Regions from separate parts of the Homo sapiens genome. Here all the other regions are linked to region 3. Evidence: fine-mapped expression QTL. A gene starts in region 3. Each other region holds a variant in brackets. All regions are shown on one strand. Distances are between the middles of the regions. Region 1 has its middle 8.2 kb from the start of LGALS2. Region 2 has its middle 14 kb from the start of H1-0. Region 3 holds the start of TRIOBP (TRIO and F-actin binding protein). Region 4 overlaps BAIAP2L2 (BAR/IMD domain containing adaptor protein 2 like 2). Region 5 overlaps TRIOBP (TRIO and F-actin binding protein). Region 6 overlaps TRIOBP (TRIO and F-actin binding protein). Region 7 has its middle 12 kb from the start of MIR4534.

Region 1 (4,076 bases), 110 kb before region 3:
AGTTCGAGACCAGCCTGGCCAACATGGCGAAACCCTGTCTTTACTAAAAATACAAAATAATTAGCAGGGCGCGGTGATGCGCACCTGTAATCCCAGCTACTCAGGAGGCTGAGGCAGGAGAATCGCTTGAACCTGGGAGGCTGCAGCGAGCCAAGATCACGCCATTGCACTCCAGCCTGGGTGACAAGAATGAGACTCCATCTCAAAAAAAAAAAAAAAACACAGAAATTCTTCCGTAAAGAAATTCCCTGGCAGGGCGCGTTGGCTCACGCCTGTAATCCCAGCACTTTGGGAGGCCGAGGCAGGCGGATCACCTGAGGTTGGGAGTTCGAAACCAGCCTGACCAACAAGGAGAAACCCCATCTCTACTAAAAATATAAAATTAGCCAGGCGTAGTGGTGCATGCTTGTAATCCCAGCTGCTCGGGAAGCTGAGGCAGGAGAATTTCTGGAACCCAGGAGGCAGAGATTGCAGTGAGCCGAGATCGCACCATTGCACTCCAGCCTGGGCAACAAGAGCAAAACTCCATCTCAAAAAAAAAAAAAAAAAAAAAAAAGAAATTCCCTGACCTACCTTGTCATAAGACCCTCATTTCAGAAGGGGTCCTGCTCCATCCCTTGGAGTAAGAAATGCTGCACAGAGAGGCCAAGAAGAATCTGAACAGACGGGCCTTGCGGGGGTTCCACACTTCGTCTAGTAATATTAGATCAGATCCTTTTTGCCCATTCACAGTTCTACACAGAGGTCAATCATGCCGGCATAATAAAGTCCCCATAAAAGGCCCCAGGGGATTGGGTTTGGGCAGCTTCTGAGATAGCTGAACACATGGCTGTCCTGAAGGATGGTGCTCCCAGGTGGGAGGGGAAGCTCTGCATCTCTTCCCCATAACCCGCCCTAAACATCTCTTCATCTGTATGTTTTATAACATCCTTTATAATAGACCAGTACACACAAATGTTTCCCTGACTTCTGTGAGCCACTCTAACAAATTAACTGAACCCAAAGAGGGGTCGTGGGATCCCCAACTTGAAGTCCAGAGGCTCAGACTTGCAACTGGTGTGGAGGGAGAGGGGAGTCAGGGAGAGGGAGCTCAGGAGTTCGAGACCAGCCTGGCCAACATGGTGAAATCCTGTCTCTACTAAAAATACAAAAATTAGCCAAGCGTGGTGGCACACACCTGTAAGCCCAGCTACTCTGGAAGCTGAGAAAGGAGAATTGCTTGAATCCAGGAGGTTGCAGTGAGCCGAGATTGTGCCACTGTACTCCAGCCTGGGTGACAGAGTGAAACTCTGCCTCAAAAAAGGAGAAAAAAGAGGCCTGGCGTGGTGGCCCACACCTGTAATCCCAGCACTTTGGGAGGTTGAGGTGGGTGGCTTACCTGAGGTCAGGAGCTCGAGACCAGCCTGGCCAACACAGAGAAACCCCGTCTCTACTAAAAATACAAAAATTAGCTGGGCGTGGTGGTGCGCACCTGTAATCCCAGCTACTCGGGAGGCTGAGGCAGGAGAATCACTTGAACCTGGGAGGCAGAGGCTGCAGTGAGCCGAGATCGGGCCATTGCACTCCAGCCTGGGCAATAGAGTGAGACTGCATCTCAAAAAAAAGAAAAGAAAAAGAAAAAAGAAAAAAGATGCATGGTTAAGTGGGTGGATGGGTGAGGAGGTGGAGGGAGGGGTGGGTGCATGGATGGTGGATCAGCAGGAGGAATTGCTCATCATAGAGCCCCAAAGGGTGGGTATCTTCAGGGCCCCAATCTGGTGCAGCACGGCCCCTCCCTCCATCCCTCCTGCCCCCTCCCTGGCTTATCATCCCAGCCTTTTGAACCAGGAAGCCTCC[G/A]TCTCAGGGCCACGCCAACTTATGCACGTGTGGTGCTGGGTGGATTTACAGAAAAGATCATCAGGTTCTGTGTCCACCTTCTTATAAGTGGCAAGAAGATTTTCCATCTCTGTGTCTTTAGAAATTGAAGATATAAACCAAGCTGCTTCTGTGACTTGGGTGGTCCTTGAGTGCTCTTCCTCAGAGACAGGTGACCTGAGTCCTGAGTGCAGTTCCTTCTCCCTGGCCCAGGCCACACAGTCTTTCCATGGATAGTGGAGCCTTTTTTTTTTTTTGAGACAGAGTCTCGCTCTGTTGCCCAGGCTGGACTGCAGTGGTGCAATCTCGGCTCACTGTGACCTCCACCTTCCAGGTTCAAGTGATTCTCCTGCTTCAGCCTCCCAAGTAGCTGGGATTATAGGCACCCGCCATCACGCCCGACTAATTTTTGTATTTGTAGTAGAGACGAGGTTTCACCATGTTGGCCAGGCTTTTCCTGAACTCCTGACCGCAGGTGATCTGCCTGCCTTGGCTTCCCAAGGTGCTGGGATTACAGGCGTGAGCCACAGCGCCTGACCTGAGCCTTCTGCATCTTAATCACCCAGTCACAGCTGTCCATGCGGGCGGGTACCTGGGGATGGTGAGGAGAGGCTAAAACAACAGAAGCAATGAAGCAACGCTGCTCACCCCAGCATTCCCACCCCACCCCCAGCTTCTGGCAGGATTATATCTGCCAAGGACAGGACTATATCCGCCTCAATCTTTGTGTTTGCCAAGCAGGGAGAGGAGCATTTATCCATCTCTAATGTGGTAAACAACCAAAGGAGGTCCCCCGCCAAGTGCAGCCCTAGTCGCAGGAGCACACCCACTCCCAAGGCTTCTGATCCACCCTGAGCACCTATGGCCACTGGAAACCCCCACTCTTACTGAAGTCTGTCCCTGGGGGCAATCCCCTTCCTCTCACAGTTGGCCCCAGCTCTGCCCTGGGCCACACAGATTCTGCTGCCATCACTGCTTTTCTGATGATTGCAGTCTCAGGACCATCTGGGCTGCCTCCCCGCAGCACCCCGTACATATACAAGCCTCCTTCCTCAAGGGGAAACACCTATGAGCCCCCAGGGCCTCATCTCCCAGAATCAGAATCCAAAGGATTCCAGAAGCAGCTTGGTTTAAATGGACATTTTCCTGAAGGCCAAAATCAACAGGTACAGGCCTTCAGGGAAATGTCCATTTCAGAAGCTGACCCTTTATTTTTAGGATGGGAGCAGGACCTAGGTGCCGTAATACCCTTGCAGGTCAAGTTCACAACCCCCGAGACCCACCAACCAGAGCGGTCATGAATTCTCCCCTAATTCCCAGAGCCCCTGGGGAGACCATGGGCTGCAGGAGAGCAGATGAGACTGTGGCTGGGTGTCCAGAGCTGCTGCCTGCTCCGGCACCTTCATGGAATGGCATTGGCCTCAAGTCCTCGCTGCCTCTTACTGGCTGTGTGACCTTGGGCAGGCCAGGTAGCCTCAGCTTCCTAGAGAATGTATGTAATGGGCTTGGCATACAGAATATGGCACATAGTAGGTACTCAACTATTATTATTCTGTATTTAATAGCTAATTGGCTGGCATTTGCTCAGCACTCTGCATACATTGGGCCATTGCGAGGTCTCTCGCCTGCATCTTAGTTTGCTAATTAGGTGCTTATCTGGGACCTTCCTGGAGCAGGCATTCTCTGCTCCATTCTCTCCTCTGTACGCGTGACAGCCCCAACCCTTGTTCCCCCAGCAGGAGCAAAAGGGGTTGGGTATGATGACCTCCAGCTCAATGTCTAAGGATCTCTGGGTTTCAGTTTCCCCCTCGGCCAGCTCCTCCTGCCCCTACCAGCCACCTCCCAAGCTGGGGATTTCACTGGCCCACCTTTGTTCCCTGCAGAATCCTAGAGTCCTCCAGCCCTTCCCTCTCTGGCCTTCACACTCCACATCCTCAGCCCAGCACAGGAGCCAATTTTGCAAAGAGGTAAAGAGACCTCACCACTGCTGCACCAGTCTGTCCATTTCCTAGCAGGCAACTGGCACTTGTTTGGTTTTATAAATTAAGGTTTCGATTCTTGGCCAGGCGCGATGCCTCACACCTGTAATCCCAGCACTTTGGGAGGCCAAGGGTGGTGGATTACCTGAGGTTAGGAGTTCAAGATCAGCTCTGCCAACATGGTGAAACCCCATCTCTACTAAAAATACAAAAATTAACCGGGCATGGTGGCTCATGCCTGTA
Region 2 (4,076 bases), 94 kb after region 3:
GGGTGAAACCCTGTCTCTACTAAAAATACAAAAAATTAGCTGGGCATGGTGGCGGGCACCTGTAGTCCCAGCTACTCAGGAAACTGAGGCAGGAGAATGGCGTGAACCCGGGAGGTGGAGCTTGCACGGAGCCGAGATCGCACCACTGCACTCTAGCCTGGGCGACAGAGCGAAACTCTGTCTCAAAAAAAAAAAAAAAGAGTGAAACTCCGTCTCAAAAAAATAATTAATTACAAATAAATTTTTAAAAATTAAACAGTAAAAACTCAAGTAAAGTCACGTGGAACTGCCAATCAAAGCTTTGGATCAGTGGAAGAAAATCCATTGCTCCCACACTGAATGGATATAAAGCTTAGCCAAAAACAAAGATACTTAACATGGTCATGAACCTCTGCTGCCTTGTTTTGGGTAAACACGTCATTTCTGTCCAGGTGTCTGAAATACCAAGGATGATACAGCTAATACTTAACTGCTAATACTAAAACAGCTAATACTTAAACTGCACTTACTTTGTGTCAGGAATTCCATTTTTTTGTTTTTTTTGAGACGGAGATCTGTCTCCCAGGCTGGAATGCAGTGGCGCGATCTCGGCTCATTGCAACCTCCGCCTCCCGGGTTCAAGTGATTCTCCTGCCTCAGCCTCCCGAGTACCTGGGATTACAGGCACGTGCCACCATGCCCGGCTGATTTTTGTATTTTTAGTAAAGACAGGATTTCACCATGTTGGCCAGGCTGGTCTCGAACTCCTGACCACAGGTGATATACCCCCCACTCATCCTCCCAAAGTGCCAAGACTACAAGCATGAGCCACTATGCCCGGCCTGTGTCAGGAACTTCTAAGTGAGATATATAATGATATATAACTCATATGATATCTATCATTTGCTACATACAGAGTATGTACACACGTATGTATTTATAACATACATATCCATTTAGTCCTCAAGAAAACTCTATCAGGCAAATGCCATTATTATCGCCAATTACTATAATGCCCAGGGGAGGAAACTGAGGCACAGAAGGGTCATTATTATTTTTGCCAAGACCCTCATACTTATGACTTGGAAGGGCTGGGATTTGAAACCATACAACCTGGACCTCCAGTACTTGGGCCTCACCACTATGCTAGACTTTGGGACTTCTAGCAGATAGAAGAAGTCCATCCAAACCTTCAGTTTACAGGATCACCCACATGGCCCAGAGAGGATTAGCAAATGCCCTCAGGTCACACAGCAGATTTGGGTGCTTCTCCTACCAGCCCACATTGCCTCCTAAGGTATGTTTAACATCTTTAATGTCTATGGGGGAAGGGCCCTAAACGTTTCTGAAGAAACCCACTCCTCCCTGCAAGCAGCGCTGTGTGCTCCACCCCCAGCCAGCACCAAAGCATATGTGAATACCTGCAGGGACTGATGCCAGCTGCATTTGGGCCCCAGTTGGGCATGGCCCTCACCAGAGAGCAGTCCCTGTTGTCCCTGGTGCTTGTCACAGCACCAGTTAGTGCATTGAGAGTATGGTTCATGGAGGAGAAAATATTTTCCCAGCCGGGCATGGTGGCTCCCACCTGTAATCCCAGCACTTTGGGAGGCCAAGGCAGGTGGATCACTTGAGGTCAGGAATTCAAGACCAGCCTGGCCAACACAGTGAAACCGCATCTCTACAAAAATACAAAAATACAAAAATTATCCGAGCATGATGGCAGGTGAAACCCCCGTCTCTACGAAAAATACAAAAAATTAGCCAGGCGTGGTGGCGCGTGCCTGTAAGTCCTAACTACTCGGCAGGCAAAGGTGGGAGAATCTCCTGAGCCAGGGAGATAGAGGCTGCAGTGAGCCAAGCCACTGCACTCCAGTCTGGGCAACTGGAGTGAGAGAGACCCTGTCTCAAAAAAAAAAAAAAAAAAAAGTAATACACATGGCCAGCCGCAGTGGCTCACGCCTGTAATCCCAGCACTTTGGGAGGCCGAGGCTGGCAGATCACCTGAGGTCAGGAGTTCAACACCAGCCTGGCCAACATGGTGAAACCCCTCTCTACTAAAAATACAAAAATTAGCCAGGCGTGGTGGCAAGTAGTGCCTGTAATCCCAGCTACTTGGGAGGCTGAGGCACGAGAATCACTTGAACCAGGA[GGCGGAGGTTGCAGTGA/G]GCCGAGATCGTGCCACTGCACTCCAGCCTGGGCGACAGAGTGAGACGCAGTCTCAAAAAAAAAAAAAAAAAAAGACACGCTTATTGTTTATAAACTAAAACAGTATAGAAGTGTATAAACTAGGCTGGGCGCGGTGGCTCACGCTTGTAATCTCAGCACTTTGGGAGGCCGAGGCAGGCGGATCACGAGGTCAGGAGATCGAGACCACGGTGAAACCCTGTCTCTACTAAAAATACAAAAAATTAGCCGGGCGTGGTGGTGGGCGCCTGTAGTCCCAGCTACTCGGAGAGGTTGAGGCAGGAGAACGGCGTGAACCCGGGAGGCGGAGCTTGCAGTGAGCCGAGATTGCGCCACTGCACTCCAGCCTGGGCGACAGAGTAAGACTCTGTCTCAAAAAAAAAAACAAAAAAAAAACCAAACAAACAAACAAAAAGAAGTGTATAAAGTAAAAAATAACAGTGCACTGTGACCCAAATCCATTTCTCAGAGAAAATCATTACTATGAACATGGAGTGTCCACACATGTACACGCACTCACGGGCCACTTCACCAGCTTGGAGAACAACCCTAGCCACAGTGCTTGCGGTTGCTTTTTTAACCAATCTCTCCTGCATCCTCATTCATTTATTGTTAAGAAGCCCAGCATCTCCCTCTTGAGGTCTCTTCCAGAATAGTCTGGGAATCCCAAGGACTCACTCTGTCCAAAGAAGGCCAGTCCTACTCTGCAAGGCCTAGTGGTGCACTGCGTGGGCCCCGAGGCAGTCCTCTCAGTTCACTCCAGGAGCTCAGCTCCCTGAAAGGAAAATGATGCCAAGCCAGGCGCAGTGGCTCACACCTTTAATCTTAGCAATTTGGGAGGCTGAGGCAGGTGGATCACTTGAGGTCAGAAGTTCAAGACCAGCCTGGCCAATATGGTGAAACCCCATCTCTACTAAAAATACAAAACTTAGGCCGGGCACAGTGGCTCACACCTGTAATCCCAGCACTTTGGGAGGCCGACGTGGGCGGATCACCTGAGGTCGGGAGTTCAAGACCAGCCTGACCAACATGGTGAAACCCCATCTCTACTAAAAATACAAAAATTAGCCAGGCGTGGTGGTGCATGCCTGTAATCCCAGCTACTTGGGAGGCTGAGGCAGGAGAATCGCTTGAACCTGGGAGGCAGAGGTTGCAGTGAGCCGCGATCGAGATTGCGCCATTGCACTCCAGCCTGGATGACAGATCCAGACTCTATCTCAAAAAAAAAAAAAAAAAAAAAAAAAGAAGAGGAAAGAAAGAAAAAGGAAATGACGCCAGAGTGGGCAGGTCCAACAGGACTTTCAGCCCAAACCACACATGGCACCTGTGTCCCTCACCAATGCCTGGCCTCTGGCACTGAGCTTGGGTCACCTGTCCACATCTACTTCCCATGGAGTGAGTTATTTCCTTTGAGGCATGAGTGTCCTCTCTGCCAGCTGGACAGGACTGTCCTGATGGGTCAGATAGCAGCTAATCCTATCAGGAGAGAGGAACTGGGGCCCAATCTCATTTCTCTTGGCGGTCCCCAGACTAGCCACAAATTTGCCCACCTCCTGCCAGGTTAAGAGAAAGGCAGTTTTGAGAGTTGATTAAGAGCATGGAGTTTCCTGTAATCCCAGAACTTTGGGAGGCCAAGCTGGGAGGACCACTTGAGGCCAGGAGTTCAAGACCAGCCTGGGCAATATAGTGAGGCCCCATCTCTACAGAAATTTTAAAAATTAGCTGAACGTGGTGATGCGCACCTGTGGTCCCAGCTACTTGGGAGGCTGAAGCAGGAGGATCACTTGAGCCCAGGAGTTCAAGGTTGCAGTGAGCCATGATTTGTGTTTCAGCCTTAGTGACAGAGTGACACCCTGTGTCACAAACAAATAAACAACAACAACAACAAAAGGCCAGGCTTGGTGGTTCACACT
Region 3 (4,076 bases):
TGAGGCCAGGCGCAGTGGCTCACACCTGTAATCCCAGCATTTTGGGAGGCCAAGGCGGGCAGATCACGAGGTCAGGAGATCAAGACCGTCCTGGCTAACACGGTGAAACCCCGTCTCTACTAAAAATACAAAAAATTAGTTGGGCGTGGTGGCGGGCACCTGTAGTCCCAGCTACTTGGGAGGCTGAGGCAGGAGAATGGCATGAACCCGGGAGGCGGAGCTTGCAGTGAGCAGAGATCGCGCCACTGCACTCCAGCCTGGGCAACTGAGCGAGAATCTGTCTCAAAAAAAAAAAAAAAAAAAAAATGAGAGAATGGGTGTTGGGGTATAATCAGCAGATTATTTCACAGAAGCCAAATATATAAAGGGCTGTCATGAGGGGATCCATCTGTGTGGAGCTAAAGTCACAGCAGACATTTATCCATCCTCGGTTTTCACACCAAGGTCAGGCCCTGTGCTAGTACATGATGAGCTGTGGCCATAGTTACCTGAGGCTGGGCTCAGCCCATTAAAATAAAACTTCTTTTGGTACGATCTGTTTTGGGGTGGCCTGAGCTCTCCCCAGGGGGGTGAGGTGAGGAACTGTGGGGGCAGGTGTTCTGGGGTCATATAAGCCTCAGCGTCCATCCTTTCCAAGGTCCCAGTGGTGCTGACGACCTTGACGCCCCCAGGTTTGAGCCATTGACCTTCCTTTGGCTTGCAGGTGGCTCTGGTGAGGGGCTTCAGTTCCTCCTGAGCTTGGAGAGCTCACTGCCTGCTCCCTTGTGAGGACTGCTAGAAATGCCCGCCTTGTTCTGAGCTAGCATTGGCCTCCCCCAGCCACCTTCAGAGGTTTGCAGGCTGTTCTCAGCCTTTCTCGATCTCCTCACCTTTGAGCCACCTCCAAGGAGAAGCCTTCTCTGCCTTCCTCCTTTCTCCACCTGACCTCCCATGATAGTAGGTGTTTCCTTCTTTTAAACACTGAACACAGTGAATCCTGGTTTGTCCCTCGAACCAGACCAGAGCTTTCTGAGTGAGAAATTGTATCTTAGTCATTTCTGTTTCTGCTCTGGGCACAAGCTTGTGTCAATGTAGGTTCTCAGCCAATCCTGTCTGAATCCAACCCCCAGGTGATCCCCAACAACTCTCAAAATAATCTAAGATTTCTGTGACCCTAGTGCCAAGCTCACCTGCCTACAAGTGTCTGAATCTAGTTTACCTTCCCTGTCTCATCACTGCACCCATCTCTCCTGGACTCCTGCTGCAACCTTCCTCCCTGTCCAGTGAATTTCGCCCTCCTCCTCCCATCCCAGTCGCCACAATTGGCAAATATCAACCAAAAGGAAAAAAGATGGGAAACAAGTTTTTTTTTTTTTTTTTTTTTTTTTTTTTAAGGCGGAGTCTCACTCTGTTGCCCAGGCTGGAGTGCAGTGGTGTGATTTCGGCTCACTGCAACCTCCGCCTCCCGGGTTCAAGCGATGCTCCTGCCTCAGCCTTCTGAGTAGCTGAGACTACAGGCGCACACCACCACGCCAGGCTATTTTTTTTTTCTTTTTTATACAAGAGTTTTGCTCTGTCGCCCAGGCTGGAGTGCAATGGCGCTATCTCAGCTCACTGCAACCTCCGCCTCCTCGGTAAGAAAACTGTCATGACAGAGAGGTTAAGACTCTAGTCCAAGGTCTGTGCTAAAGCCAGCCCAGCGGACTGTCGGCAGAATGAACCAACGGGAAAGAGGTCAGAAGGAGCCAGATCCGCCAGTGCCAGCCCTCTCCAGGGCTCCCTGGGGACCCCCAGCGGGCAAGGGCTGCAGGCGGCCCAGGCTAAACGTGCAGTGAGTCCCGCTCTCAGAGGTATCTGCGCCCCGCCTGCCTCCGCCCCGCCCCTTGTTCTGGTTTGTCCAGTCCCACAGAGTCCCACAGTCTTCATGTAAATGAGGCACCCAGAGAGAGCCTATGCGAGCGTGGCAGGGGCGTGGCCTTCCACCTCCCGAGCATCGCTCTGATTCATTGTTAAAATAAAGAGGCCATGACCCTGGCACTCCCACCCCGGCAGCCCCTGTGCGTGGAAACCCAGCCAAGGTTAGCACTGGGCCTCAGAAAAGAGGAGCTGGTAGGGGGAGGCCTACAGGAGGGGTAGGGGTCGAGGGATCCGGGGAGGAACTGGCTGAATGCCTGGATGGAGAGGGTCCCGGGTCCATTCTCTGGGTGGGGCATGTGTAGCTGCTTAAGGTTTTGATTATTATATCCACATCTCAAGTGCATTTTAGAGAAGGATTCTGCCTATTGGTTGTGGGTAGGGGAGGAAACGGGAGCAGCGAGGGGCACGTGGAGTAGAGCCCCCTACCCACCCCCAGGAAAATGAGCGGCGTTCTCCTGCTAGGCGACGCTCCTTTATGTGGCCAGACCAGGAGAGAAACGCCCAGGACGGGCGGGGCCGATGCGCCCCTCTTCCACCACCAGGAGTCGGGAGGACGACCGCCCGGGGAGGATCAGAGACCCTGGGGCCACGGAAGGACCAGTGGGTAGCCCTCTCCCCACCGTGCCTTGCTGTCGCCCCCACCGCATTCCCTTCTCCAGGTCTGATGATGGAGGAGCCTTGGCCCTGGCTGTCCCAGGGGAGGAGGTGAAATTCCTCAGCTCTCCACCAAGATTGGCCACAAAAGCCTGATCCCCTGGAACACAGCAGGTGAGGATGGATGTGGGCAGGTGACCTGGGGGCACCAAAAGCTGCAGGTGTTTTGGGATGTTGGGTTCCTCCCACCCCCCACCCTCCCCCTGGGGCTCTGTGTGAGTGGGGAGGCCATCTTTAAGTGATTCTCCTGACCCAGCTCCACTCCAGGGCATGGATGTTGGTGGCCTTAGGGGCACCCAGAAAGGAGAACCCTTGCACAAGTAAGATACCAGGGCGGCCGGGCGCGGTGGCTCAAGCCTGTAATCCCAGCACTTTGGGAGGTCGAGGTGGGTGGATCACAAGGTCAGGAGTTCGAGACCAGCCTGGCCCATATGGTGAAACCTCGTCTCTACCAAAAATACAAAAAAATTATCCGGGCATGGTGGCACATGCCTGTAATCCCAGCTATTTGGGAGGCTGCGGCAGGAGAATTGCTTGAATCCGGGAGGCAGAGGTTGCAGTGAGCCGAGATCGCGCCACTGCACTCCAGCCTGGGTGATAGACCGAGATTCTGTCTCAAAAAAAAAAAAAAAAAAAGAAAGAAAGACACCAGGGTTTCAGAAGGGTATGATGCTTCACACCTGTAATCCCAGCACTTTGAGGGAAGGAGGAGGATTACTTGAGGTCAGGAGTTCAGGAGTTCAAAACCAGCCTGGGTAACACTGCAAGAGCCTTTTTTTTTTTTTTTTTTTTTTTTGAGACACACTGTTGCCCAGGCTGGAGTGCAGCGGGGCGATCTTAGCTCCACTGCAACCTCCACCTCCTGGGTTCAAGCAATTCTCTTGCCCCAGCCTCTTGAGTAGCTGGGATTACAGGCATGCGCACCACGCCCAGCTAATTTTTATAGTTTTAGTAGAGACAGGGTTTCATCATGTTGGGCAGGCTGGTCTTGAATTCCTGGCCTCAAGTGATCTGCCTGCCTCAGCCTCCCAAAGTGCTGGGATTATAGGCGTGAGCCACCGCACCTGGCCAAGAGCCCATTTTTACAAAATAAAAAAGAAAAAAATTAGCTGGGCGTGGTGGCGTACACCTGTAGTCCCAGTTACTCAGTCCCAGAGACTGAGGCAGGAGAATCATTTGAGCCCGGGAGTTTGAGGTTGCAAGGAGCTATGATCGAGCCACTGCACTCCAGCCTGGGTGACAGAGCAAGACCCTGCCCCCACCTCCCCAAAAAAGACATTAGGGGCCGGATGCAGTGGCTCACACCTGTAATCCCAGCATTTTGGGAGGCCGAAGGGGGCGGATCACCTGAGGTCAGGAGTTCACCTGGCCAACATGGCGAAACCCCGTTGCTACTAAAAATACAAAAATTAGCCAGGCATGACGGTGCATGCCTGTGATCCCAGATACTACTGGGGAGGCTGAGGTAGAATTGCTTGAACCCAGGAGGCGGAGGTTGCAGTGAGCCGAGTGAGCCAAGATCACAT
Region 4 (4,000 bases), 390 kb after region 3:
GACTGCTCCTTCCACAGCAGCACGCGGTTCTGGAGCATCCCCCGGGCCTGGCCGGGCGGGGACACGGGGGTCAGCCAGGTCCGGGCGGCTCCCTGAATCCTGGGGACCCAAAATGACACCCTCGACCTGAGAGCTCAGGCCCTACCAGCTCGGGACGACCGGATTTTCTAGCTGGAAGGAGCCAGAAGCCAGCTCACCGTCCAACCCGCACCCTCTACTTTTGGCAAAGGCACCTCCATTTTCCACGAAGAGCTTCCTCTGACCCCCCGCTTCCCGCGTCAATGTGTGTGCTTTGAGCGGGGCTGTCCTCACCGCCCAGCTTCAGGGGTAGGGGTGGCACCCAGGCCTGGCCACTCAATCACCCCATCCTCCTTCCTGCAGCGATAGGCTCAGGAATGGCGCTTAGATAGAAACTACGACCAAAGAACCCAGTCCCATTACTTACTTACCCAGTAACACTATGGAAAATGCATTTTTTTTTTTTTTTTTTTTTTTTTTTTTTAGACGGAGTCTGGCTCTGTCGCCCAGGCTGGAGTGCAATGGCGCGATCTCGGCTCACTGCAAGCTCCGCCTCCCGGGTTCATGCCATTCTCCTTCCTCAGCCTCCCGAGTAGCTGGGATTACAGGCGCCTGCCACCATGCCCAGCTAATTTTTGTATTTTTAGTAGAGACGGGGTTTCACCATGTTGGCCAGGCTGGTCTCAAACTCCTGACCTCAGGTGATCTGCCTGCCCTCGGACTCCCAAAGTGCTGGGATTACAGGCGTGAGCCACCGAGCCTGGCCTAAAACTTCTTTCAATGGCACTGACCTTTCTGTGTTGTCACTCAGTCATAATAAAATCCCAGGTACAATCAGAATGCTGCATTCTCCAGCCATAAAGATCGCTCCCTCTTTTCAAACATCCCTGTCCCTCAAGGCCTAGCTCAAGACGGTCACCTTAAGAAAAGCTCCCTTTGTCGAGCAGTGACTCCATACCAGGCCCTGCTTTAAACGCTTTATCTGCATTATCTTACTTGATTCTCGCAATAGCCCTGGGTGGTAGGTGCAATTATTATCTCCAGTTTATAAAAGAAGATACTGAGGGTCAGAGAAGTTAAGTGACTGGCTCAAGGTGTCACATTCAGTAAGCGTTGAAGGGGTCTGTGTTGGTCTGTCCTTGAAGATGCCCCCTACGACTACACTTTCAATGATTTCTGCCTTGAACCTGGCCCCATGACTAAAAACCTCACGTCAAACTCAGGCAGCAATAACGGGAAGGCTTGGTGCCTCCCATCACTGGAGCAACTAGTCTAGCTGGTCACTAAGTGGACAGCCCCTCTGTTTCCCTGCAGTAACTAATTAGCAGAATAGCACAAAGATAAAACCCGAAGGCCTTTGTGCAGAAGTTTCAGAGACATAAGCAAAGTGAGAGCATTAGGTTCTGCATATCTTTCTTGTTGTTGTTGTTGAGACAGAGTCTCGCTCTGTTGCCCAGGCTGGAGTGCAGTGGCACGATCTTGGCTCACTGCAACCTCCGCCTCCCGGCTTCAAGTGATTATTCTGCCTCAGCTTCCCAAGTAACTGGGACTACAGGCGTGCGCCACCACTCCTGGCTAATTTTTGTATTTTTAGTAGAGACAGGGTTTCACCATATAGGCCAGGCTGGTCTCAAAGTCCTCAACTCGTGATCCACCCGCCTTAGCCTCACAAAGTGCTGGGATTACAGGTGTGAGCCACTGCACCCAGTCACATGTCGTATTTTAAAAGGGATTTAAAAGTATCATTGGATTGTTTGTAACACGAAGGATAAATGCTTGAGGGGATGGATACCCATTCTCCAGCATGTCATGATTACACATTGCATGCCTGTATCAAAACACCTCATGTACCCCATAAATATATACA[C/A]CTACTATGTACCACAAAAATTAAAATAAATGGTGGGTGAGAAGAAACACTGCATACGGTTTCAAAACCATCAGAGAGGCCATGGGAAAAATTTTAAAAATATATTTACGAAGTGAAACAGCCATTCTAAGTATGACACCAAACCCATAAACTTGAAAAGACCGATACATTTTACTAAATAAAAATAATGTTTTTGTATAGCAAAACCAATCATAACACAGGCAAATGATAATGGCAAACTGGCTATTGTATTTGCAACTCATCACCAAGAAAAAGCTGGTTTCAGTAACATATCAAGAGCTCCTACAAATTAATAAGTGGATGAAAAGATACTGGCATGTCACAGCACAGAAAATCCAATGGCTTTGAAACATGAAAAGATGTCAAGCTCGCGTTTAAGACAAGTATGAGGTAAAGCCACACCGAGATACCATTTTTACCTTTCTAATTAGCCAAGATCAGAAAGTTTGCTCATACACTGTTGTCAAGGGGTGCAGAAGCACAGAAACTCATACATCACTGATGGAAGTGTAAACTGGTGCAACCAATGACTATATTCTTGGGCTTACCAATTCCACTTCTAGGAATTTATCCTGGAGATACATTTGCACAGCTGCAGTAAACGAGAGAAGCTAAGGATGAGGTGGGAAGGCACGTTACTGACTAGACTTGGACTAAGCAAAGACTAATTAGCGAAGATGAATAAGAAAGACAATTTACCGTGCCCGGGCACCTAGAGTTCTTTAAATCTTATTCTAAGGCTGCCTTCTTTTTTTGAGAGAGAGAGCGAGCCTTGCTCTGTTGCCCAGGCTGGAGTGCAGTGGCGCAATCTCGGCTCACTGCAACCTCTGCCTCCCGGGTTCAAGCCATCCTCGTGCCTCAGCCTCCCGAGTAGCTGTGATTACAGTCATCCGCCACCATTCCTGACTAATTTTTGTATTTTTAGTAGAGACGGGGTTTCACCATGTTGGCCAGGCTGGTCTTGAACTCCTGATCTCAGGTGATCCACCCACCTCGACCTCCCAAAGTGCTGGGATTACAGACATGAGCCACCACGCCCACCCCAAATGTGCCTTCTACTTATAAATAGAACAAGAAGTAAATATATATGCTTAGCTATCTTAGGAGTTAGATCTTGGATGTTTTAAAGTCCAGCTGGGTCAGACAACATGTTACTTGCTCCCTATGTGATATGGTTTGGATATTTGTCCTCTCTAAATTTCATCTTGAAATCTGACCCCCCAGTGTTGGAGGTGGGATCTAGTGGGAGGTGATGGGGGCAGCTCCCTCATAAATGGCTTGGTGCTGTACCCCACGGTAATGAGTGGTATGAGTTCATGCAAGATCTCCTTGTTTAAAAGATTGCAGTGGCCGGGCGCGGTGGCTCACACCTTAATTCCAGCACTTTGGGAGGCCGAGGTGGGTGGGTGGATCACCTGAGGTCAGGAGTTCAAGACCAGCCTGGCCAACATGGTGAAACCCCGTCTCTACTAAAAATACAAAAATTAACGGGCATGGTGGTGCATGCCTGTAATCCCAGCTACTCAGGAGGCTGAGGCAGGAGAATCGCTTGAACCCAGGAGGTGGAGGTTGCAGTGAGCTGAGATCATGCCACTGCACTCCAGCCTGAGCAACAAGAGCAGAACTCCATCTTAAAATAAAAAGAAAAAAGAAAGAGTGTGGCACCCCACCGGCTCCCTCTCTGGCCATGTGATATGAACTTCCCCTTTGCCTTCTGCCATGATTGTAAGCTTCTAGAGGCTTCGCCAGGAGCAGATGCGGGCAATGCACTTCTTGTACAGCCTGCAGAACTGAGAGCCAAATAAACATCTTTTAAAATAAATTACCCAGCCTCAGGTATTCCTTTATAGCAATGCACAACGGACTAACACACCATGCATAGGGGAAAATCTGCCTGTTCAACCCACAGCTCCCTCCTGAGGGACCCTCACCCACGAGGAGGCAGTCAAGGAGGGGGTCAGCTCTTCTCTTAATGTTGATGGTTAACTATTTACAGGCAAAAAGGAGTTTAACACAGGTGAAAAAGAGTTTCCTTCCAAAGAAGATCTATAAATAGCTAAGAAGCACAGGAAAACATGTTTAACATCACTAGCC
Region 5 (4,076 bases), 58 kb after region 3:
CAAAGCCCGGCACCCCGCCAGTGACCCCTTCCTGGCCTCCCCACCCAGGGTCCCCGGAGGGCAGAGGGATTACAGGCCCCACCCAGAGCTGGCCATTAGTCATCCTCTATCACAGGGTTCTGGAATGTCCGAACTGGAAGGGCCCTGGGAATTCAGCCAGCCCAACCCCTTGGTGCACAGACAGGAGACGGGCCCATGAGGGTGTTGGTCTCTTCCAGGCCTAGGAGCACCTGGGGCAGACCCAGGCTCAGAACTCAGCGCACCTGAGGCCCATGGAGCTCCACCCAGCTTCCATCTCAGACAGTCATAGGCTAGGCCTGGAAGAGCTAAAGAAACCTCTTGGCATAGAACCCCTGTCCTACTTTACAGAGAGGCAATTGAGGTCTGCAGCAGCAACTCCGTTTACTTAGTGAGAGGAAAATGCTTCTAAGAGGCCTGGCCTCCCAGAACAAACCCAGCAACCTGGTTGGTGTCCATCCCTATGCCAAGGGCCATGACAGCCATCCACACAAGAGAGGATGGGCGCCGCTCGCCTCACCAGAAGGTCTAGGCACTTCTTTTTTTGTTTTTTATTTTTGTTTTTTTTTTTCTGAGGCAGAGTTTCACTCTTGTTGCCCAGGCTGGAGTGCAGTGGCGCAACCTCGGCTCACTGTGTCTTCCGCCTCCCGGGTTCAAGCGATTCTCCTGCCTCAGCCTCCCGAGTAGCCGGGATTACAGGCATGCGCCACCATGCCCATCTAATTTTTTTTTGTATTTTTAGTAGAGACAGGGTTTCTCCATGTTGGTCAGGCTGGTCTCGAACTCCTGACCTCAGATGATCCACCCTTCTCAGCCTCCCAAAGTGCTGGGATTATAGGCGCGAGCTACCGCGCCCAGCTATAGGGACTTCTTAGTAGCCCTACTTTATGGTTCAGAAGACTGAAGCTCAGAAAAGTGGAGACACTTGCCTAAAGGCACACAGAGAGAAAGGGAACTCTTGGATACAAAACTCCTTTTCTCAGGGAGGCAATGTGGAAAGAAGCAGAAGGTATCGTCGTTGCATGCCCCTTGAGAACTTACCATCTTCTTGAGGAGAGAAAACTAAGTACTTGAAACAACCAACAGCACAGACAGGGCTTGGTGATGTGAGGGAACCCTGGGAGGGCTGGGGACCGGGTGATATGCACTGACCCTGGCAGTGGGCGGGCCGCGACTGGCATTCCAGTGGAGTGACCAGAAGCCCAGAGGTGGGCTGGGCTTGGCATACTATCAGGCTGTTCTGGCGCCCCCACCCCTTTCCTACATGTCCTGCCAATCTAACCCCAGCTGGAGCAGAGACAGGCACTGCAGGAAGGCACCCAATCACAAATCCTAAACTTACAGCTTAGGGCGCTCTCACCTGCTGCGGATGTGGGTAGCCAGCCTACAGTTCAAGAAGCAGACCGTGCATCTGGGCGCGGTGGCTCACGCCTGTAATCCCAGCACTTTGGGAGGCCAAGGCAGGTGAATCACCTGAGGCCAGGAGTTTGAGACCAGCCTGGCTGACATGATGAAACCCTATCTCTACTAAAAATACAAGAAATTAGCTGAGCATGATGGCGGGCGCCTGTAATCCCAGCTACTCGGGAGGCTAAGACAGGAGAATCACTTGAACTCAGGAGGAGGGGGAGGTTGCAGTGAGTGGAGATTGCACCATTGCACTCCAGCCTGGGCAACAAGAGCAAAACTCCTCCATCTCAAAAAAAAAAAAAAAAAAAGGCAGCAGATTGTGGCTGGCACTCACTCCTACTCCAGGGCTCCATCCAGTCCTACTTCCCAGGGGACCATTGTCCCTGACCATGGTGATGATCTGGGGGAATATGGAAAAAGACGTAACGTCCTGGCCCCGCTGAGTCCCTGACTTGCTTACACAGGTCATCACCCCTCCCTGTCTGCACTGGGTCCGGGGTGCCTGAGGAGCCTTGGCAATCTTAAAAGGAGCTCCAAGAAGGAAAGGGAGGGTGTGGTTACGGAGGGGAAACCAATCCATTTCACAGATGCTACCCCTGAGGCTCAGAGAGGAAATGGAGGGGCCAGGTCTCAAATTGGCATTTTCCGCCTCCCCACCCCTCCTGTGTGCAGCATAGTGAGTTTGGCAGCCACACAGGACACCTGTACAATCACACACACTGGCTCTTTCATTCCATCCTCCTTGCAGCCTCCCTCCCCCTCGCTCACCACCACCTCTACTTCGCAGTGGAAGAAACATTGGTTTGTGCTGACAGATTCAAGTCTCAAATATTACAGAGACTCCACTGCTGAGGAGGTGAGGCCATGGGTGTACTGATGAACCCCCGGAAGGGCCTGGGGTGGCCTGGCTGGGTTCACTGGGGTGGGTCACACCAGGGCCCACACGGACCATAGTGGGCCCTCTTGCTCCAGGCAGATGAGCTGGATGGTGAGATCGACCTGCGTTCCTGCACGGATGTCACTGAGTACGCGGT[G/A]CAGCGCAACTATGGCTTCCAGATCCACGTGAGGCTGTGTGCAGCTTGGGGGCTGGTGGTGGGCAGCATGGCTGGAGGTCCCTGGGGGAGGTTTTGGTGTTGAACATGGCTCACCATGGAGACTGGATCCCTTCACTCATTTACCCAGAGGCCCTATCTTCAGAGCCAGAGCTGTGATGCCAACACTTAGCATATCTGGGGGAGACGCTGGAGCCAGCAGGGCTCTTCCCAGGCCAATGGAAGGGAGGTTTTGTACCCCCTGCCCACCCCAGACTCAAGACCTTAGATGCATCCTGGGAAGGAAGGGCCACCCTCCCTGGGGTCCATAGTGGGGAGGGAGTCATGCGGCTGGCCATGTGGCAACCTACCCATGCGGTGGCCTTGCAGACCAAGGATGCTGTCTATACCTTGTCGGCCATGACCTCAGGCATCCGGCGGAACTGGATCGAGGCTCTGAGAAAGACCGTACGTCCAACTTCAGCCCCAGATGTCACCAAGTACGTACTAAGCTGGACTGGGGCCTTGAGGGAGGCACTTACCCTTGCGTCCCCGAGTGGGTTTCTAGGTACTCACCTGAGGGCTGCACCTTTCTGGGCCCTCGTTTCTCTGTCAACAACATGGGAAGAGAGTAGTGAGCATTCTCGGTATCATCCAGAAGTACACTGAGGGTTTGAGGTTTGATCTGTCTTCTCAAATGTGATGGGGCCTCTTCTCTTTGGAGGAGATGCCTGTGAGTCAAAAGCCCCTGCCAGGTGGCTGTTCTGTCTCTGTGTCTGTGCCGTGGGGGCCGTGTCTAAGCCTGTGTTAGGAAGGGGTGGTTAGGTAGTTCAGCCTTGGCGCCCACACCTCCCGGGATGGGGAGCTCACTCCTTCTGGAGGCTGCCACGGGCACTGGGGCAGGAGGGCTGAGTTACCGAGTGGCAGAGCCCCCCACAGTTTATACCCAGATGCCCATGGCGGGCTGGGACTTGGAGCTGCTGGGCAGCGGGAACAGAGTGTGGTATTAAAGGGGGCTGGGCTGGGTGTAGTGGCTCACACCTGTAATCCCAGCGATTTGGGAGGCTGAGATGGGAGGATCACTTGAGCTCAGGAGTTCAAGACCAGCCTGGGCAATATAGTGAGACCTCGTCCCTACAAAAAATTTAAAAATCAGCTGGCCGTGGTAGGGTGCGCCTGTCAGCTGAGGTGGGAGGATCACCTGAGCCCGGAGGCCGAGTCCCCCAGACTGGCCACACCGCGGCTATTCAGCCTTAGGCCAGAGGCTTTCCTGTCTAGGTTTCAGAGTCCCCATCTGTCACGTTAGCATGTCATGTCTGTACATGTGCCAGGATGTGCCCAGAGCACTTTGTGAACTCTGAAGCACTGTGCAGTTGGACTGTTATTTAGCATCTAGGCCCAGCTGCTTTAAGAAAGAAACCCCGGGCACAGTAACTTCATCGAGATAGATGTTCATGTCTCCCTTCAGAACAGCCCCGAGGTATGCAGTCCTGGCCTGGTGGGGCTCGCTCTGCCGTTTCAGGGGAGCCACCTGCCACACCCACTCGGCAGCCTATAGTCACATGGCTACAAGTAGCTGTGGGAATACTGCGAGTGTAGTTTTTGGCAGGGTGACCA
Region 6 (4,076 bases), 72 kb after region 3:
GCCTGGCCAACATGGTGAAACCCCATCTCTACTAAAAATACAAAAATTAGCTGGGCGTGATGGTGGGCAGCTGCAATCCCAGCTACTCAGGAGGCTAAGGCAGGAGAATCTCTTGAACCCAGGAGACAGAGGCTGCAGTGAGCTGAGATTGCACCACTGCACTCCAGCCTGGATGACAGAGTAAGACTCCATCAAAAAAAAAAAAGGCCAGGCACTGTGGCTCATGCCTGTAATCCCAGCACTTTGGGAGGCCGAGGCAGGTGCATCACGAGGTCAGGAGTTCAAGACCAGCCTGGCCAAGATGGTGAAACCCTGTCTCTACTATGAATACAAAAATTAGCCATGCGCGGTGGCAGGCGCGTGTAATCCCAGCTACTCAGGAGGCTGAGGCAGGAGAATCGCTTGAAAGTGGGCGGCAAAGGTTGTAGTGAACCAAGATTGTGCCACTGCACTCCAGCCTGGGTGACAGAGTGAGACTCCGTCTCCTGGGTGACAGAGTGAGACTCCGTCTCCTGGGTGACAGAGTGAGACTCTGTCTCAAAAAAAAAAAGAAAGAAAAAAAGGAGAGAAACTTTCAATGTTCAGAAGTTTCGGATTTTAGAATTGTGGGTAAAACCATGGGTGGCCCTGAGTGGGAAAAAAAAAGCCTCGGTCTCAGTCCTTAGGAGCTCACAATCTGAGAATAAAGCCAGCAGGAGCTAATGTTGGGGCATTTACTCTGAGCCATGCTTTGTTCTAAATTCTTCACACACCTTCCAATAACCCCATGGAGGAAAGGTACTGTTGTTATCGATCCCTGTTTTCCAGATAAGGGATCTGAGGCACAAGGGGTTAAGTCACCTGTGCAAAGTCACATCGGTTTATGCTGACTGTGGAGCCTGAGCTCTTGACCACGAGGCTGGTCAAAGCAGATAGGCCTTGTTTGAGAGCCCTCAGAGTCTGCAGGGGGGGTGTACTAGGTGGGGTCCTACCTGGAAATCACTAGAACAGGAGGTACCAATGGTCAGACCCTGAGCTGTCTCCCCAGTAGGGTCCATCCAACAGGATTATCTTCCCTTAATAGATGGGCTGAGAGAGGTTGAGAGCTTACCCCAAGCCACTCAGTTTATGACACAACCTGGGCTACTCTAGACTCCTGGTTCGGTGCTCTTTGCATAGCACTCCTTGGTCCAAGTCCATAGTACTTGCATAGTACTATGTGGAGTCCACATAGTACTCCACCAGTACATGTGGCGTCTCAGAGCTGGTGGCACTTGGTGCTGCTGACCCCCCTCCAGTCTCTCTTGTGCCTCTCTGCCCTGCTTCCAGCCATTGAAGCCATGAAGAAGGCCTACCAGGAAGAGCTGAGCCGAGAGCTGAGCAAAACACGGAGTCTCCAGCAGGGCCCGGATGGCCTCCGGAAGCAGCACCAGTAAGATGATGCCGGGGCCCAACTGCCCACCCTGATGGTTATGGGTTGAGGAACTTTGCTGAGGCCCCTTGGCAGCGGACACATCAGTTTGCCCCTAGCTGAGATTCCTGCTCCAGTCTCATGGATGCAAGAAACAGAAGCAGAAGGTCCTCAGGCAGACCCCATGCCAGTCCTCACAGACAGTCCTTCAGGCAGCTTCTTGTCTTGGCTGGTCCCAGCCTCCACCCACCTCTTCACCCCTTTAGTCTCCCCTGGAGCTGGGCTGCAGTGTCACTGTTGACCACTAGGCCTCTCCCTGCCCCAGAGCACAGTTTTGGAATGTTGAGGTTTCAGGGGCTTTAACTTTAAAGATGGGCCCCTCCAGCCGGGCACATTGGCTCATGCCTGTAA[T/TC]CCCAGCACTTTGGGAGGCTGGGATCAGGAGTTCGAGACTAGCCTGGCCAACATGGTGAAACCCCATCTCTACTAAAAATACAAGCTAGCTGAATGTGGTGGCGGGAGCCTGCAATTCTAGCTACTTGGGAGGCTGAGGCAGGAGAATCGCTTGAACCCAGGAGGCAGAGGTTGCAGTGAGCCAAGATTGTGCCATTGTATTCCAGCCTGGGCAACAAGAGTGAGAGCAAGACTCCATCTAAAAAAAAAAAAAAAGATGGGCTCCTCCAAGCCACCCTCACTTAGGGTAAACACCTGTAGCCCAGAGAAGCTGTCACTGGTTCACAGCCCCACAGCAGGCTAAAGGCAAACCTAGAGAGGGAACCCCAGAGTCCTGGGATGCTTTAAGTCTACCTGACTGGACTCCAGGCTTGGCAGGAGCAAGACAACCTATGCTCTCCTCTGCTCCTCCTCTGGGGCAGGTCAGATGTGGAGGCACTGAAGCGAGAGCTGCAGGTGCTATCGGAGCAGTACTCGCAGAAGTGCCTGGAGATTGGGGCACTCATGCGGCAGGCTGAGGAGCGCGAGCACACGCTGCGCCGCTGCCAGCAGGAGGGCCAGGAGCTGCTGCGCCACAACCAGGTGGGCCTGGCCCCAGGTTGGGGGGACACGGGTGGGTCCCGGCACCCCTCCCCTGACCACCGTGCCTCTCCCAGGAGCTGCATGGCCGCCTGTCAGAGGAGATAGACCAGCTGCGCGGCTTCATTGCCTCGCAGGGCATGGGCAATGGCTGCGGGCGCAGCAACGAGCGGAGTTCCTGCGAGCTAGAGGTGAGTGTCCTCACTAGCACCAGGCAGCCCAGTGGTTCTCGGGGCCCGGGGCTATGGGGCACCCCCGCCATAGGCTGGGTATCACCTGTGGCAGGAAAGCCAAGTCTCCCAGTGGCTGGGCCAGCCTGACTAGGCTAGAACACCTACTGTGCATCCAGTAGCCAGCATTCTGCCCTCCCACCTGCATTGTGTCACCTACCTGCCGTGTACCATAGCAAATCACTCCACTTTTCTGAGTCCCAGTAGCTCATCTGTAAAATGGCACCAGCACCTTCCTTACTGGGAAATATTGGGGTAAGAAAATATGTGTGTATGTGTGTGATGCCAGTATCACTGTAGTATTTTCTTTCTTTTTCTTTCTTTCTTTTTTTGAGACAGAGTCTCTCTCTGTCACCCAGGCTGGAGTGTAGTGACACGATCTCAGTTCACTGCAACCTCTGCCTCCCTGGTTCAAGCGATTCTCCTGCCTCAGCCTCCCAAGTAGCTAGGATTACAGGCCTGCACCACCACACCCAGCTAATTTTTTATATTTTTGGTAGAGACAAGTTTCACTATGTTGGCCAGGCTGGTCTCGAACTCCGGACCTCAAGTGATCTGCCTACCTTGGCCTCACAAAGTGCTGGGATTACAGCATGAGCCACCACACCCGGCCTTAGTATTTATTTCTTTACTTTTTTTTTTTTTTTGAGACAGAGTTTTGCTGTTGTTGCCCAGGCTACAGTGCAGTGGCGCGATCTCGGCTCACCACAACCTCCGCCTCCCAGGTTAAAACGATTCTCCTGGCCGGGCGCGGTGGCTCACGCCTGTAATCCCAGCACTTTGGGAGGCCGAGGCGGGCAGATCACGAGGTAGGAGATCAAGACCATCCTGGCTAACACAGTGAAACCCCGTCTCTACTAAAAATACAAAAAAATTACCCGGGCGTGGTGGCGGGCGCGGTGGCGGGTGCCTGTAGTCCCAGCCACTCCGGAGGCTGAGGCAGGAGAATGGCATGAACCTGGGAGGCGGAGCGTGCAGTGAGCCGAGATCGTGCCACTGCACTCCAGCCTGGGTGACAGAGCGAGACTCCGTCTCAAAAAAAAAAAAAATATTAAAAAAAAAAAGCGATTATCCTGCCTCAGCCTCCCAAGTAGCTAGGATTACAGGCATGTGCCACCTCGCCTGGATAATTTTGTATTTTTAGTAGAGACAGGGTTTTTCCATGTTGGTCAGGCTCTTCTCGAACTCCCAACCTCAGGTGATCCGCCCACTTCGGCCTCTCAAAGTGTTGGGATTACAGGCGTGAGCCACCGTGCCCAGCCGATATTTTATTTCTCTTTTTTTTTTTGAGACGGAGTCACTCTGTCACCCAGGCTGGAGTGCAGTGGCACCATCTCGGCTCACTGCAAGCTCCGCCTCTCGGGTTCATGCCATTCTCCTGCCTCAGCCTCCCGAGTAGCTGGGACTACAGGCACCCGCCACCACAC
Region 7 (4,076 bases), 300 kb after region 3:
TTCTGACTTCCAGGGCCTGGTGAGAACCTCAGGTGAGGAGTTGCTGTCAGGCTCCCTGGGCAGGTTGGGGTGGTCCTGCTGTCCCACCCTGGGGACTTTATTCCAGGGGCTGTGGGCTGGAAGGAGCCCCTGTTCCTTCCAGACTCCCTCTCTGCACCCTCCCTACTGCTGGCCCTGTGGCCCTGGGCGTGGGATGTGCAGAGGACCGGCCAGGAGAAGGGTTAAGTCAGGGACTCTTGGGATGGCTTTGGCCACGGCCATTCCTCCGAGAGAAGAGAACAAGGGGCCCATTCTGTGTGTGGGAATTAATAGCAAAGAGTCATCTGGGGTGTCACTCAAGCACTGATCGACTCCCAGAGGAATGTGAGAGGGAGAGAGAGAGGGAGAGGAGAGGAGAGGAGAGGAGAGGAGAGGTGTGGTGGGGGCTGAGACGGAGATGTCAAAGGCAGGGCATTAGGGTCTGGCTGGTACAGGAGCCCGCCCTGGTAGGAGGACCCGCCGCCCCAAGATGGGTCCTGCTTTTCACCACAGATGCGCCCCCGTCCCTACACAAGATGAAGACCCCCTCCTGTCATTCCCTCACCCAGGGCCTCCCCCTTCTGTCTTCCCTCATTCCCAGACGGCCGTACCCTCTACCCCGAGGTGGGCCTGCTGGGCAGCTGGCCCTGAGTTCCTGGGCTCTCCCAGTCTGCCCCCATCTTTGCTGAGAGATCCAGGTGCTCCTTGTGGGAAATGCCCTGGGGATGGTGCTGTGGAGTGCCAGCCTGGGGTCCTGAGTTGTACCCTCTGTCCCAGGATCCAGGAGCCCCACTTGCCTGGCTCCAGGCCCAGTTCAGACACATTTCTACCGGGTGGCTGCAGGCACCTTTGGCCGCCTGCGTGTGGGGATGCTGGAGCTTGTCGGCCATCACAGGGGGCTCAGCCTTCCTCGTCAGCTCAGGCCCCTGTGGCAGCCTCAGCCTGGCCTGTGGTCACTGAGGACCAGCAGGTCTCCTGACATCCGAATGTCATACCCTAAGGAAGGCCTTGGCGAGGCTCCAGGAGGCCTAGGAGGGTGTGGTGCTCTCCTGCTCCAGTTGTGGGGCTGAGTCAGAATCCTCCCAGGTCATCTGCACCTGGGCGTCCTGACACCCCTTCCCCTCCCCAGGGCCTCAGGCTGGCCACCGAGCCGAAATGAGCCTAGACTCTGTGGGACGCAGAGGCAGTGGGGTGCGGAGGATGAGGGCTTTGGGGCAGTCAGAGCAGGGTGCCCCACTCCTTGGCCCTGTGACCTGGGCAGAGCTCCTTTGTCTCTCTGAGCCCCGGGGTTTCCTCTTGAAAATGGGTCATGTCATAACTGGCAGGTTCAGAGGTAAGAGAAGGTAACAGGTGTCAAGTGCCCGACACAATAGCCAACCACTGTGTGTTGTTATTTTTATTGTGATGATTATTGTTATTGGAGGGCTGGGCAGCCTCCACTACCCTTGGGCTGGAAGGCACACTGTGCACACCATTTGACTGCCTGGATCTGCACCTGGCAGCCTGTGCCCGCTAGGCGAATCGCAGGGATCCCAGCACTGTTCCTCCTCAGCTGTGGTTTTGGCGAGGGTGAGCTTATTGGCCCCCAGACCTCCTGTGTGCCAGCGTCATTTCCATATCTGGTGACTCATCCTGCTGGTCCTGCCGGAACATGATGCCTCCCCTGACGGCATGGTGCAGGCACAGTGTGTGCAGCCACTGGCCTCGGTTCCTCCCCTGGGAGTTGGCCACCTGCGCCCCCA[C/T]GGTAGACTCTGGCATGCTAAAGCCTGAAGGGAGCTTAGCGGTTGTCCAGCCGGACCTTCTTATTGTACTGACAGGGAGCTGAGGTCTAGAAAAGAGAGGGCCTTTCTGGGGCACTGTGGAGTAAACAGAGTTGGCAGGCTCTTCTACATTGGGCTAGGAGTCTGGACTCCTGGGTTCTTGCCCAAACTTGGATGCTAGGGGCCAAGTGGGCTGGGAAAATTCCTTACTTATAGCTGGGGTGGGGAGAGGACACACGGAGAAAGAAGGTGGAGCCTTTTGCAAACTAAAGTGCTTTCCAAATATGGGGGGTTATCAGGAGGGTGGCTTTGGGCCCCTCGAGATGGTGCTGACCCTGTGTTCCTCTGCAGTCTGTGCAGGGCACTAGGGTGGTTGGTGTCACCAGCCCAGGGGCTGCTGGACACAGGCCCCACCCAGAGGAATAAGCCAACACCATTGAGGAGGGGCAGCCCAGGGCTCCCTGCCTGGCTTTGGAGGTGTAAGGTGTTTGAAATAACATTCTCCAACATGCTCAAAGTGAAACCAGCTTCCTTTGGGAACATATGGAGACCACAGGCACTTCACAGGGGCTGATGAGGACCCACCAACTCTGCTGTGGGCTCTGTCCCTGCCCTCGGAGCTCATAGCCTGGTGACCTTGGCATTCATTATTTTCATTCCAGTTCTCAGCACAGCGCTTGGCACATAGTAGGAACTCAGGAAGTGTTTATGGGATGGAATGGGGTGATGATGTTGAGGCAAGATGAAGGGTATGAACGGAGATGACATCTGCGTCTTGCCTGGAAGCAGAGGGTAGGAAAAGGAGCAAGTAAGGAGTGGCGGCTGGCATGGGTGCAGCACCACTGAGAGGAGGGGTTGAGAGAGGTTAGAGAAGGACTAGAGTCAACACTCCTGAGAGCCCTTCTTTGCCCTGTGGCCTCTTACTTGCAAGCTAGTTCCCCTCTCTCAGCCTCAGTTTCCTAATCTGTAAAACAGGGATAATAGAATTTATTCATGAGTTGTTGCAAGGCTCAAGAACGGTAACACATGGGCCATGGCAGGCTCTCGACCGTGCCTGCTGGACACCCAGTGTGTTGTGAACAGAGATCTTTAGAGAGAACAGATAAAAATTACAGAAGTATCTTATAGAGACACAGTTGACAGATACAGAAATAATGTGAGTTGCATCATATTAGATTCAGAGAGATTAAAGATAGATTTTTAGGGGAATTTACGAATTTATTCATTTTGGGGACACAGAGAGCGATGAGCACTGGGATGGAGACAGTGAATGCCTGACATTGGAGGCTCCTGGACTATAGAGTTGCTTTGTTTGTTTTTTGGATGGAGTCTCATTCTGTTGCCCAGGCTGGAGTGCTATGGTATAATGTCGGCTCACTGCAACCTCTGCCTCCCAGGTTCAAGCGATTCTCCTGCCTCAGCCTCCTGAGTAGCTGGGATTACAGGCATGTACCACTATGCCTGACTAATTTTTGTATTTTTAGTAGAGATGGGGTTTCACCATGTTGGCCAGGCTGGTCTCCATCTCCTGACCTCAAGTGATCTGCCCGCTTAGGCCTTTCCAAGTGCTGGGATTACAAGTGTGAGCCACCTTGCCTGGCCAAGTGGTTTTTTTTGGATGGAGTCTCACTCTGGTGCCCAGACTGGAGTGCAGTGGCATGATCTTGGCTCACTGCAACCTCTGCCTCCTGGGCTCAAGCAATTCTCCCACTTCCGCCTCCTGAGTAGCTGGGATTACAGGCACCTGCCACCATGCCTGTATTTTGTAAAAATACGAAAATACAAATTTTTGTATTTTTAGTAGAGACCAGGTTTCACCATGTTGGTCAGGCTGGTCCCAAACTCCTGACCTCGGGTGATCCATCCACCTCAGCCTCTCAAAGTGCTAGGATTACATGCGCGAGCCAGCACACCTGGCCTTTTTTTTTTTTTTAATTTATTTTTTTCCCCAAACTTGGACAAAGCATATCACTTCTAGACTTTTTATTGGGCCACAAAAGTGCTTAAGAACTAAAGAAGAAAACTCCAGCTCCAAAGTATACAAAAATAGCAACAGAGAAATTATTCAAAATTTTAAATGAAAAATAAAAAAGACTCTTTAAAACTTGTTTATAGCCAACCAGTTCTATGTAGCATGTGACGTGGGTACATTTCAACATGCTTGATGCAATGTGGGGTCAGTGGGACCCACAAGAGTCTTATAAAGTGTCCAGGGCACTGCAACCTCCGCCTCCCAGGCTCAAGCAATTCTCCCACCTCAGCCTCCTGAGTAGCTGGGATTACAGGCACCTGCCACCA

What was found. PIP is the estimated chance that this variant, and not a neighbour inherited with it, causes the effect.
Region 1: its variant is fine-mapped to the expression of TRIOBP in gastroesophageal junction (GTEx, PIP 0.99).
Region 2: its variant is fine-mapped to the expression of TRIOBP in whole blood (INTERVAL, PIP 0.90).
Region 4: its variant is fine-mapped to the expression of TRIOBP in whole blood (TOPMed, PIP above 0.99).
Region 5: its variant is fine-mapped to the expression of TRIOBP in whole blood (INTERVAL, PIP above 0.99).
Region 6: its variant is fine-mapped to the expression of TRIOBP in monocytes after LPS (Quach 2016, PIP 0.95).
Region 7: its variant is fine-mapped to the expression of TRIOBP in whole blood (INTERVAL, PIP 0.98).

The regions. Positions count from the first base shown.
Region 1 is chr22:37,586,244-37,590,319 of GRCh38, forward strand. No RefSeq gene overlaps it. Among named protein-coding and RNA genes, the nearest start is that of LGALS2, 8.2 kb to the left of the region's middle. The variant G/A (reference allele first, on the strand shown) is at 1,837.
Region 2 is chr22:37,789,212-37,793,287 of GRCh38, forward strand. No RefSeq gene overlaps it. Among named protein-coding and RNA genes, the nearest start is that of H1-0, 14 kb to the right of the region's middle. The variant GGCGGAGGTTGCAGTGA/G (reference allele first, on the strand shown) is at 2,129.
Region 3 is chr22:37,695,033-37,699,108 of GRCh38, forward strand. TRIOBP (TRIO and F-actin binding protein) reads left to right here and starts at 2,016. Exons shown (of 24, transcript NM_001039141.3): 1 at 2,016-2,057; 2 at 2,556-2,664.
Region 4 is chr22:38,089,628-38,093,627 of GRCh38, forward strand. It overlaps BAIAP2L2 (BAR/IMD domain containing adaptor protein 2 like 2), which reads right to left. Exons shown (of 14, transcript NM_025045.6): 8 at 1-47. Among named protein-coding and RNA genes, the nearest start is that of SLC16A8, 7.4 kb to the left of the region's middle. The variant C/A (reference allele first, on the strand shown) is at 1,886.
Region 5 is chr22:37,752,701-37,756,776 of GRCh38, forward strand. TRIOBP (TRIO and F-actin binding protein) reads left to right here. Exons shown (of 24, transcript NM_001039141.3): 13 at 2,177-2,284; 14 at 2,401-2,490; 15 at 2,850-2,959. Among named protein-coding and RNA genes, the nearest start is that of H1-0, 50 kb to the right of the region's middle. RefSeq lists enhancers at 1-39, 1-474, 2,122-3,321. The variant G/A (reference allele first, on the strand shown) is at 2,463.
Region 6 is chr22:37,766,766-37,770,841 of GRCh38, forward strand. TRIOBP (TRIO and F-actin binding protein) reads left to right here. Exons shown (of 24, transcript NM_001039141.3): 19 at 1,309-1,411; 20 at 2,263-2,422; 21 at 2,497-2,610. Among named protein-coding and RNA genes, the nearest start is that of H1-0, 36 kb to the right of the region's middle. The variant T/TC (reference allele first, on the strand shown) is at 1,802.
Region 7 is chr22:37,998,453-38,002,528 of GRCh38, forward strand. It overlaps a transcript of POLR2F not described here. Among named protein-coding and RNA genes, the nearest start is that of MIR4534, 12 kb to the left of the region's middle. RefSeq lists an enhancer at 1-740 and a silencer at 130-424. The variant C/T (reference allele first, on the strand shown) is at 1,761.